3 linked regions of the Homo sapiens genome follow. The protein of the gene in region 1 purifies or fractionates together with the protein of each later gene. This does not show direct contact. Each region holds a gene or a part of one and is shown on either strand. Other genes may lie near its edges. The genes, in order: TMCC3, MIB1 and PPP3R1.

Region 1 (3,656 bases):
AATGAATTTTGTCTTTAGACTTGGGTCCCATTTTTGAGGTATCTCCGTATATATATGCAAATATTCCAAAATCTGAAAAAAATCAAAATCTGAAACACTTCTGGTCCCAAGCATTTCAGATAAGGGATACCCAATAATTTCCATCCTTCATGATTCTAAGTTTATAATTTGTGGCTTTTAGCTGACAATTAGAGAAGGATTTATGTGTGGGTCCTTAAATTATTGGATACAGGCAACAACTCACGTGCATCTTAAGATGCTGATTCAGTAGACTTCCGTTATAGTGTCATTATGCTAATTCAGAGATCTATATTTGATTTCCCTCCATAACAACTGTCAAGTACACACTTACTCATTACCCAACAAAGTTAATCTTATTTGGCACATCAATCTTGAAGTCCTTATGTAATGTTTGTTTGTTTGTTTGTTTGTTTGTTTGAGATGGAGTTTTCACTCTTTCTCCCAGGCTGGAGTGCAGTGGTGCGATCTTGGCTCACTGCAACCTCTGCCTTCTGGTTTCAAGCGATCCTCCTGCCTAAGCCTCCCGAGTAGCTGGGATTATACGCACCCACCACCACGCCCAGCTAATTTTTGTATTTTTAGTAGAGATGGGGTTTCACCATATTGGCCAGGCTGGTCTCAAACACCTGACCTCAGGTGATTCGCCCGCCTTGTCCTCCCAAAGTGCTGGGATTACAGACATGAACCACTGCACCCAGCCTATGTAATGTATTTTTTTATGTTCTGTAGTTTGCTCATTAAACTTTTTACTCTAAAGTAAAATAAAGAACTTTCCAAAGTCATCTTAAGATTAAAGTATACATTCAAAACCTTTGGCTTATATTAGGTAATTTTAAAGTAGATGTTTTGTAGGCTGGCTTTTAGGTGCTTATAACTTATTAACACAAAGTGTGTAAGCCCAAATATAAGGTCATTTTCCCCATTTTTTCCAATAAAGAGATACTTCAAAAGTTTTTTAGTCAAAGTTAATAATACATTAACTTCTAAAAAGGTAGATAAAATAGTAAAATGCCTATTACATACTATAACATTAAAAGTTTAAATTTAGTTTACTTATTGTTTTATAATTGATGTATGATTTTATGTCTGTATTAATTTAGAAATGTGGCCTTTTCAATTCTCCAATTTTATGAAACAAAAATCTTTCCATATGCATCTTTGGAATCTTTGTCACACAAGAATTATATTTTAAGTCACAGCTTTTCCAGAGTATGAACGTCAGTTCTATCGAAATAGTCTGGGATATAGCACTTTCTAGATGCACATTTTCTCCCAAGTTACAGATCCCTATTTATGTGAGTTCAGGACGGTTTCTGTTTGCATCTGTCCTGTGGTTACGTTTGTGACCCGCGTGTTACAGTCACCACCTGTATTACTGAAGAGACCTTTAAAGGCTTATTCACAGCAGTAGCAGCATTTGACATCTGAGAAGTCATGCCTGAGAATAAGCATTAAATCTGGATGAAGCTCTTTGGTCCTCTTTATAAAATGATTCTGTCAGGTGACCTATGTAAGCATCTGAAATTGGCGTTGATCAAAGTCATTCCAGTCTAATGAATGCATCTTCTCCAAACAGTACATCCTGTTTCAAAATACACAGTATAAGATTTTTTGTTTTGTTTTGTTTTGTTTGTTGTTGTTGTTTTGAGATGGAGTCTTGCTCTGTCGCCTAGGCTAGAGTGCAGTGGCGCGATCTGGGCTCACTGCAGCCTCCACCTTCTGGGTTCAAGCAATTCTCCCATCTCAGCCTCCCGAGTAGCTGGGATTATAGGCACGTGCCACCACACCCAGCTAATTTTTGTATTTTTAGTAGAGACGGGGTTTCACCATGTTGGCCAGACTGGTCTCGAACTCCTGACCCCAGGTGATCCACCTGCCTTGGCCTCCCAGAGTGTTAGGATTACAGGCGTGAGCCACTGCACCCAGCTAAGGTTTCAAATATGAGAAAAATAATCTTCAGTGAGAGGGGCAGGGCACAGGAATGAGAATCTTTGTACTTCTGTTCCTTTAGATTTGGACATTTTGAAACACTGCATGATGAACCATCTATAATTTGTAATAAGCTTAATTTTGTATTGTCAGTTAAGTTCCAAGAGCTGAAATCCATAATCAGTGCGTGTTTGCATGCTGGGAAATAGTAGAGTTGACCCCAGAGTAGAAGGTGATACTAAAAGCATGGTGCTTTCCCTGTGGGCTCTCTGGCCATGAACCCCAACAGCAGTGTCAGGGCAGAATAGGGAAAAGGCACCACAGACACCAGAGGTCCTGGCCCTCCTTTAGCAGGATCCCACAGAGCCCTGTCTCCTGCCTGGCCCTGGCAAGTGCATCAGCTGATGAGCTCTATCTTGAGGTCACTGCAGCTAGCTAAGGTGCTAGTCTGACCCGTGTGCACCTTCAGTGGCAAGGACAGAGAGTCAAGACCCCAGAGACTGGATCTTTCCAGAGCTGGGACTCAGTGTTATCCAAAAGCTCAATTCCCACAGCTAGCCTTACTCTTTTAGAAAAACAGCCCATCAGGGAATGAGAGCAAGCCAAAAGGTACTGGCGCAGGAAGATAAAAAGGACATCGTTCCACAATGTGCTGTGAAAGGTCACACTGGGAATCGGCTCCTCTCTTTTAAAGGTATGAGCGACTGGAGGACCAGCTGCATGACCTGACGGACCTGCATCAGCATGAGACAGCCAACCTGAAGCAGGAGCTGGCCAGCATTGAGGAGAAGGTGGCCTACCAGGCCTACGAGCGCTCGCGGGACATCCAGGTACCTTTCCCTTTGTGATTAGACACAGGCCTGGGCTCTTCCCGAGCCTTAATTCATTTAACAGTCTAAATGTTTATGCCTAAGTCCTAGAGGGTTTCTGGCACATGGCACAAAATGTTTTCTCTGCACAAACATTTTATCTGTACCACGTTAACCCCACTAGTTCATGTTATAGACATTACTAAGTAAAAAGACAATATTCTTTTTTTTTTCTTTTTCTTTTTCTTTTTTTTTTTTTTTTTTTTTTGAGGTGAGTCTCGCTCTGTGGCCCAGGCTGGAGTGCAGTGGGTGATCTCAGCTCACTGCGACCTCTGCCTCCCGAGTTCAAACGATTCTTCTGCCTCAGCCTCCTGAGTAGCTGGGGCTATAGGCACATGCCACCATGCCTGGCTAATTTTTTTGTATTTTTAGTAGAGACGGGGTTTCACCATGTTGGCCAGGCTGGTCTCAAACTCCTGACCTCAAGTGATCTGCCCACCTTAGCCTCCCAAAGTGCTGGGATTACAGGTGTGAGCCACCGTGCCTGGCTAAGAGACAATATTCTTTATACTTTATGCCTAAATCAATGAACAAGTATTTATTATCCACCTCAAGCCCATCACCACCAAAACTGTAAAATGTAAAAATAGGAGACAATCTCTGGCTTCAAGCAGCTCACTGCCTAGGTGGAGAGTGTGGGATAGCGCAACTGCCAAAGAACTCAAGACAGCACAAACATTGGCCAATTTACACGACACGGACTCTGTGAGCCACAGAAATTTAGCCATGTGGTGTCTAGCAAGCTGTGGACCATGGGAGCAGTCAGTCATGTAGTAGCAAAACATTTCCACGTTCAGTCCCACGTCTGTCATATCAGTTGTGTGGCCCTGAGTAAGA
Region 2 (3,656 bases), on another chromosome or scaffold:
CTTACAAAGTTTGACATATATTTATCATGTGACTCAGCTATCCCACTTCTAGGTATGTACCCAAGAGAACATAGGACACCTTTCCAAGCAAATACTTGTACTAAATGTTTGTAGCAGCTATTATTAGCCCCATACTGGAAGCGAAGCCAAATGTTCAGGTAGTGCTGGGATAAACAAATTGTGCAAATTGTGGTGCACCTATGCAATGAATACTACTTAGTGAAATGTCAATGATGGAAAAGCTCAGGAAACTTAAAGAAAAATCCCCATTGTGCACATTTATGTGAGAAATAGACATGATAAAGAATTAAGCTGACACTCGGAAGGCTAAGGCAGGAGTATTCCTTAAGCCCAGGAGTTTGAGGCTGCAGTGAGCTATGTGCCACTGCACTCCAGCCTGGGTGACAGAGTGAGACCCTATCTCAAAAAAAAAAAAAAAAAAAAAAAAAAAGAAGAAAAGAAGCTGAGATCAGGTACCTTCTGACCACACTTCAAAGAAACATAATAAAAACAAATGAGAAATTCCCATCTTGAAGAATATGACATAACATTACCAAAGTTTCAGCTCTGCATACCCCGCCAGTATCAAGAGTTGTAACCAGAGGGCATGCATGGTTCTAAGACCTAAACGAAATGATCGGTTTATCTTTTGAATCTTTAGCTCTTTTCTTGATCTCATTTTAAAAAATTTTTAAATTATGCTAGACATTTGCTAGGCATTTTCATATGTTATTTTACTTAATCTTCACATTAGCCCTGTGAAATAGGTTTTAACTGTCACCATTTTGGAGCTGAGGAAGTAGATGATGGAGTTTTGACCTAGGTCCCCTGACTCCCAAGTGCACTTATTTTGCTCCTCAGTCTCTTTCTTCATTAGGGTTCAGCTGTTCTCATACGGTTCTTCAGCTGCCCTAGGTTCTTGGGTAGGATTTTCTGCTTACTTTAATGCATAATTTTATGTACGAATTAAGCATTACCTTCTCACCTAAAGCAAACTTTCTTTTCACAGAGTGAGGAAGAGCTCAAATATGCAGCAAGGGGAAGTGAACTTATTAGGTCATTAAAGTAAATCTAAATCCAGTATGAAGACTCATTATTATAACTTTTCAGGAAATATTTAGAGTTCTAAGGAGTTGATTATCTCCATTGCTTTATAGTGGAGATTGAAAGAGATCTGTCTTTGAACTCTACTGTGCTTTGTCCTTTTTAACTGTTCTTGGGTGGAATTACCATAATAAAAATGATTTTTAAAACTTGCTGTTTTACTTCAGAAAGTTTGTTGCCCCATCCATTTTTTTCTACTTTAACAGCAACTGTTACCATATGAGAATAACATTGCAGCAGCTGAAGGAGAAAGTAGCCAGCAGTGTTCGGTGTTATTTATTCCTTATGAGTAGTTATAGTTTTCATGTTCTTTACTGTTGTCAAATTTTAACCATTTAACATTTGTTCTTCTCGTTCAGGGTAATGCAAACCTGGATATCCAGAATGTGAACCAACAAACTGCCCTACACCTTGCTGTTGAACGACAGCATACCCAGATTGTTAGGGTAAAGTATTGACATACATTTTAGCTTATAATTACATTTTAACCATACAGATTTTTAGAACTTCCTGAAAATTGAAATGATACAGTGTTACATGTCTCAAGCTGGCATAGTTAGATATAAGTAAATCTAAATATCTAAATACAATGTGATCTGCCAAGACAGATGAGACCATATGCTTGAGATTGGCTTCTATATATAGATGGTACTTTTCTAAAGCTCTTCAGTAAGTATCGTAGAAGGGATTAGGAAAATTGTTAAAGCACCATAAGCAAAGTTTTAATAAACTTATATTTACTGCTTAAGTAATCTATTGAAATATGTCAACTGTGCATTTTTATTTAGGGGGTTGTAGTTTAGCAAACACTGTTCGTATTTATTGTTATTTGAAATTCCTCTTGATATCCTCCATGGCTTTCTTCATGACCATACATTTGGAGAAAATTGACCAAAAGAGAATGGAATCAATAATAACAGTTCCTTGTTTGTTTACATAATAGAAGAATTTTGAACATTATGATTTGGTCCTGGTGGAAGTGCTTAAAATATCTCAAGTCATACATCTAAAGTTGAAAAGAGAAATAAAGTCCTAAATATCCCTCCGTTATCATCATCTTAGAGTAGATGAATTAAGCAACATATTGATTCTCATATATTTTTATTTTCTCTAATTCAATATATTTAAATAACCAGAACACGTGACTCTTTGTAAGGAGCCACAGGGTTGGAGAAGAGTAGAAGGCAAAAGCATAAAAATGATTAGCTTTAGTGGTAACTTCTTCAGTAGGTCCAGGGTGTTCTCACCATTACTTTAGATATGTTGAAGTTTCTTATGGATGTGGACACTTTGCCAAAATGAGACATCTTTCTCTTTTAGCTTTTGGTCCGTGCAGGTGCCAAGCTTGATATTCAGGATAAGGATGGGGATACTCCTTTGCATGAAGCTCTAAGGCATCACACTTTGTCTCAGCTACGTCAGCTCCAAGATATGCAAGATGTGGGGAAGGTGGATGCTGCCTGGGAGCCATCCAAAAACACGGTGAGTAAAGATCATCTTTCATTCAGTACCAGTGGAAGAATCTTTTCATGCAAGATCTTATATTTACTGGTAATCTAACCTGTATTGGATAAAATATTTTATCAGAGCTATGTACTTAGAAACTTAGTTTATGAACTTAGTACTAGTCAGTACTAACTTATTGCTCCACATTTTTACCAAAAGTTGTTCAGTTCTGTTGTTGTTGTTGTTGTTATGTGGAGTCCCACTCTGTCACCCAGGCTGGAGTGCTTGGCTCACTGCAACCACCTGGGTTTAAGCCATTCTCTTGCCTCAACCTCCCAAGTAGCTGGGATTATAGGCGCCTGCACCACACCTAGCTAATTTTTGTATTTTTAGTAGAGACGGAGTTTCACCATGTTGGTCAGGCTGGTCTCGAACTCCTGACCTCAGGTGATCCACCCGCCTCGGTCTCCCACAGTGCTGGGATTACAGGCCTGAGCCACTGCGCCCAGCCATTCAGTTCTTTTTTAACATCAGCCATTCAAATAGATACGTAGTGGTATCTTATTGTGGTTTAATTTGCATTTTCCTAATGACTATTGATATTGAGCATCTTTTCATTTGTCTGTCACCATATGTATTTTATGAAGTGTCTGCTCAAATCTTTTGTTCATTATTTTGTTAGGCTGTTTGTTTTCTTACTACTGAGTTTTGAGAGTTCTTTATGTAATCGGAATACAAGTTCTTTATATGTGAATGCACATATTTTCTCCCAGTTGGTAGGAGATTTGTCTTTTCATTCTTTTTTTTTTTTGAGATGGAGTCTCGCTCTGTCGCCCAGGCTGGAGTGCAGTGGCACAATCTTGGCTCACTGCAACCTCCGCCTCCTGGGTTCAAGTAATTCTCCTGCCTCAGCCTCCCAAGTAGCTGGGACTACAGGTGCATGCCACCACGCCCAGCTAATTTTTTGTATTGTTTTTAGTGGAGACGGGGTTTCACCTTAGCCAGGGTGGTCTTGATCTCCTGACCTCGTGATCTGCCTGCCTCAGCCTCCCAAAGTGCTGGGATTACAGGCATGAGCCACCACACCCAGCCCTTTTCATTCTTCT
Region 3 (3,656 bases), on another chromosome or scaffold:
GCTGGCAAGTGGAAGTGCTTAAATAACTGCCCCTCAGGTGCCAGTAATGACCAAAGAAATCATTTTGTTTGATACCTAAAATAACTATATTTACCATTTGTTCTTGAAAGCTGACTTTCGTAGATCTTGGCTTTAAAATTTTTTCCTGGCTTTGCTTTCCAAGCTGGCCATTTAAAAATATTCTGGATATTTAGGTATGGATTCCTCTAGTTGCTCAGCCTCGACTAGATTGTAAATACTGAGTATTTAGTCCATCTTACTCATCATCGTAATCGTAGCTGAAAGGAGGGGAGGGAGATGAGGAAATAAATGAGTGGTTGGAGAAAAGATAACTGCCCCCATACATGCTGCACTGGCTTCTTAGCTCAAGATCAGTTTTAGCTACATGGGGTATGTGGGAATGATGATGAATGGAAAGATTAGATAGAGCTTGTTCCCTCCTAGTCATATTAAAGGGGCTTTTTAAGAAGTCATTTATTGTCAAGGTAAAATGTGATCACTGGCACATTGCTTTGCCTTTGAGGAAAGTTTTGACTACTCATCCAGAGCAGATATCAACTACTTTATAATGTTTCACAAGATATTAAAACAAGTAAATAAAATTTAACTACTCCTTCTAAGGGCCTTTGCCAGGGAGTGAGATAATGATACAACTATAAGATAAATCATTAGTAACCCCTTTCTTTTATCAGAGAAAAATTGATAGGTGTCTCATAAATGGAGAATTCAGGCAAGGCCATTCCAGCAGGAGGTTTATAAGGAAATGGAGGTATAAAATCTATACTTTAGCAGAGATGTGCCAAGAGCATTGTAGCCAAAGAAAAGGAAATGGGGAAAGAGATAAGATGGAAATTTAAATTTGAGGCTAAGTATTGCCGAGGACTTTAGACTTTTTGTATTAGAAAGCCACTAGAAAATGTAAAGCACAGGAGCTAGCCGTTTGGCTGAATTTGCCTTTTAGAAAGATTACTGTTGGCAATGTAAAGAAGATGGATTGAACCACATATATTTATTTGATTTATGATTATGATTTTCAAGTATTCTTAATATTTTTTATTCATTTATTAAGACTGAAATGCTATCTTCTTGATTGGAGGAGTTTTCTGAGTAGCTAAAACAATCCTTTAAGTGCCTAAATTTCAGTTTCTTGATAAACAACTTTCTAAACTATAATTAATGTCCCCACTTCAATAAATTGACTAATAAATAGTTTGCATAAATATTATCATACTACATTTCTGCTTTTCCTCTTCCCATTAATCATACAGCCTAGAAGAAATGATCCTGATTTGTCCACTTAAAGTTTGTGGAGACATTATCTTTTCTTATCTACTCACAATAGATCACCTTTGTGATCTGTTATGTTTAAATTCCCTGTCACCTTTCCTAGTCTATGGTTGTAAACTAAGGCAAAACTCAAGATTGGAAGAAGAAAATAATTAACTAATCCTTGGTATATGTGTAAAAAATTAAGGCAAGCGTGGAGAGGGTAGCTCTTCAGCAAAATCTATGAACTTTGAGACACTGTTCTGAATGGTTTGCTGATTGGTACCTGGTTAGCTAGTAGTTTTAAATACTGATGGAATTTTAATCAATAAGTTTTACATTTGAAATACTTATTAATACTTAAAACATTATTAAAACCATAATTAAGCACCTGTTATATGTGATGCTCAGAGCACCAATGAAAAAGTCATGGACTCTGCCCTGAGGTGGAGTAGACATATAAATAAATAAGCGAAAAGCATTTGTAGGACTTTCATTATATTTTTTCTCTTTCAAGAGTAAGGGTGTGTCATTTTATAGATAGAAAATGGGGAAATAAGGTTTATTTGAACAGTTTGCAGTTATGTCACATATTCCATTAAAGAAGGAATACTCTTTAATAGAGGGATAAAATGCTTGTGTAGTTGATGTGCTTATGAAGTGCTTATATGATCTTTTTTATCAGATTATTTATATACATTAATGTGCTACATAATAATTTTTGGTCAGTGGCTGACCACATATACACAGTGGTTCCGTAAGATTATAATGGAGCTGAAAATACATGTACAGTCATGTGTCACTTAACAACGAGTTGCATTGAGTAATGCATCATTAGTGTAGCCTAAGTGTACAGAGTTTATAAAGTCTACAGTAATATCCTAGGCCCTTACATTAACTCACCAGTCACTCACTGGCTCACCCAGAGCAGCTTCTGTCCCACAAGCTCCTTTCATGGTAAATGCCCTATACAGGTGTACCATTTAAGTAAAATTTTCATACTATACTTTTACTGTACCTTTTGAATGTTTAGATATGTTCAGATACACAGATATTTAGCATTGTGTTACAATTGCCTACAGTATTCAGTACAGTAAGATGCTGTACAGATTTTGTAGCCTAGGAGCAATAGGCTGGACCATATAGCCTGGGTGTGTAGTAGGCTGTCCCACATAGGTTTGTGTAAGTACACTCTGATGTTCATACAATGATGAAATCTAATGATGTGTTTCTCAGTGTAACCCCATCGTTAAGTGACTCATGACTGACTGTATGTGTATTTTGGTGTTTGCAGCAGTATTTACATAAATTTTTCATCACAGCATTTCTGATACATGTGTTCTAGAAAACCTCAGATGCCATGAAATCACATCTGGGAAAAATATGGATAGAGTAGACCATTCAAATTATGCAGCTTTGTTTGTAACAGAGTATTAACATAAACAGTAATGATCTTAAAAATGCAAGTACAAATTAACTGTACAAATGAAACACCATAGCCCATCACTTATGAGCCTTAAACGGGGACTTGTGCTTCTTTTAAGGTATGGTGCAGGTTGAAGTTATTTGCTTTAGTAGAAACTACTTTTCTAAAATTCAGTAGTGAGCCAATGTATGCCTACCTTTATTAATAGTTGTGGGGGTGAGGGGGAGCATAAAAACAAAAGAAATTGTCTTCACAACTTCATCTGTGTCCTTAGTTTTCACCAGACAACATAACAATTTTAGAAAGACTTGAGGTTCTTAAAGCCCCTAAACTTGTTTTCTCTAAAGGAAAGCACCTCTTCACTATTGTTTTCTTAAGGTCTTCATATATTGAGGGGTTTTTTTTGTTTGTTTTTTGAGACGGAGTTTCCCTTTTGTCGCCCAGGCTAGAGTTCAATGGCGCGATCTCAGCTCACTGCAACCTCCGCCTCCCAGGTTCAGGCGCTTCTCCTGCCTCAGCCTCCCAAGTACCTGGGATTACAGGCGCCCTGCCATCACTCCCGGCTAATTTTTGTATTTTTAGTGGAGACGAGGTTTCACCACGTTGGCCAGGCTGGTCTGAAACTCCTGACCTCAGGTGATCCACCCGCCTTGGCCTCCTGAAGTGCTAGGATTACAGGCGTGAGCCACTGCACCCGGCCTTTTTTTTTTTTTTTTTTTTTTTTTTTAAGAGAAACTTGCCCTGATCCTTTACTGTGAAAAATCCCTGTGAACCAGTGAAATTTCCATGATTACTGACAATACTACTCTCCTTCCTCTTTACGAATTACGTGTGAACTAATTCATATTAGAACACCATCTTGTAGCTGTAGTTTTTACTTTGATAGTATATAGTTCTATTTTAATATAATTTATATTTAAAATATATGCTTTAATTTTTAAGTTCTTACAGTGAGGATGCCATA

Evidence for each region.
Region 2: the proteins of TMCC3 (region 1) and MIB1 purify together in Homo sapiens (affinity purification with mass spectrometry; one large-scale study listed by BioGRID and IntAct). This does not show direct contact.
Region 3: the proteins of TMCC3 (region 1) and PPP3R1 purify together in Homo sapiens (affinity purification with mass spectrometry; one large-scale study listed by BioGRID and IntAct). This does not show direct contact.

Annotation. Positions count from the first base shown.
Region 1 is NC_000012.12:94,577,518-94,581,173, reverse strand, and holds part of TMCC3 (transmembrane and coiled-coil domain protein 3), read left to right. Parts: intron 1-2,644; coding exon 2,645-2,780; intron 2,781-3,656.
Region 2 is NC_000018.10:21,841,668-21,845,323, forward strand, and holds part of MIB1 (E3 ubiquitin-protein ligase MIB1), read left to right. Parts: intron 1-1,463; coding exon 1,464-1,550; intron 1,551-2,424; coding exon 2,425-2,586; intron 2,587-3,656. UniProt on the Homo sapiens protein: E3 ubiquitin-protein ligase that mediates ubiquitination of Delta receptors, which act as ligands of Notch proteins.
Region 3 is NC_000002.12:68,190,019-68,193,674, reverse strand, and holds part of PPP3R1 (calcineurin subunit B type 1), read left to right. Parts: intron 1-3,656. UniProt on the Homo sapiens protein: Regulatory subunit of calcineurin, a calcium-dependent, calmodulin stimulated protein phosphatase. Confers calcium sensitivity.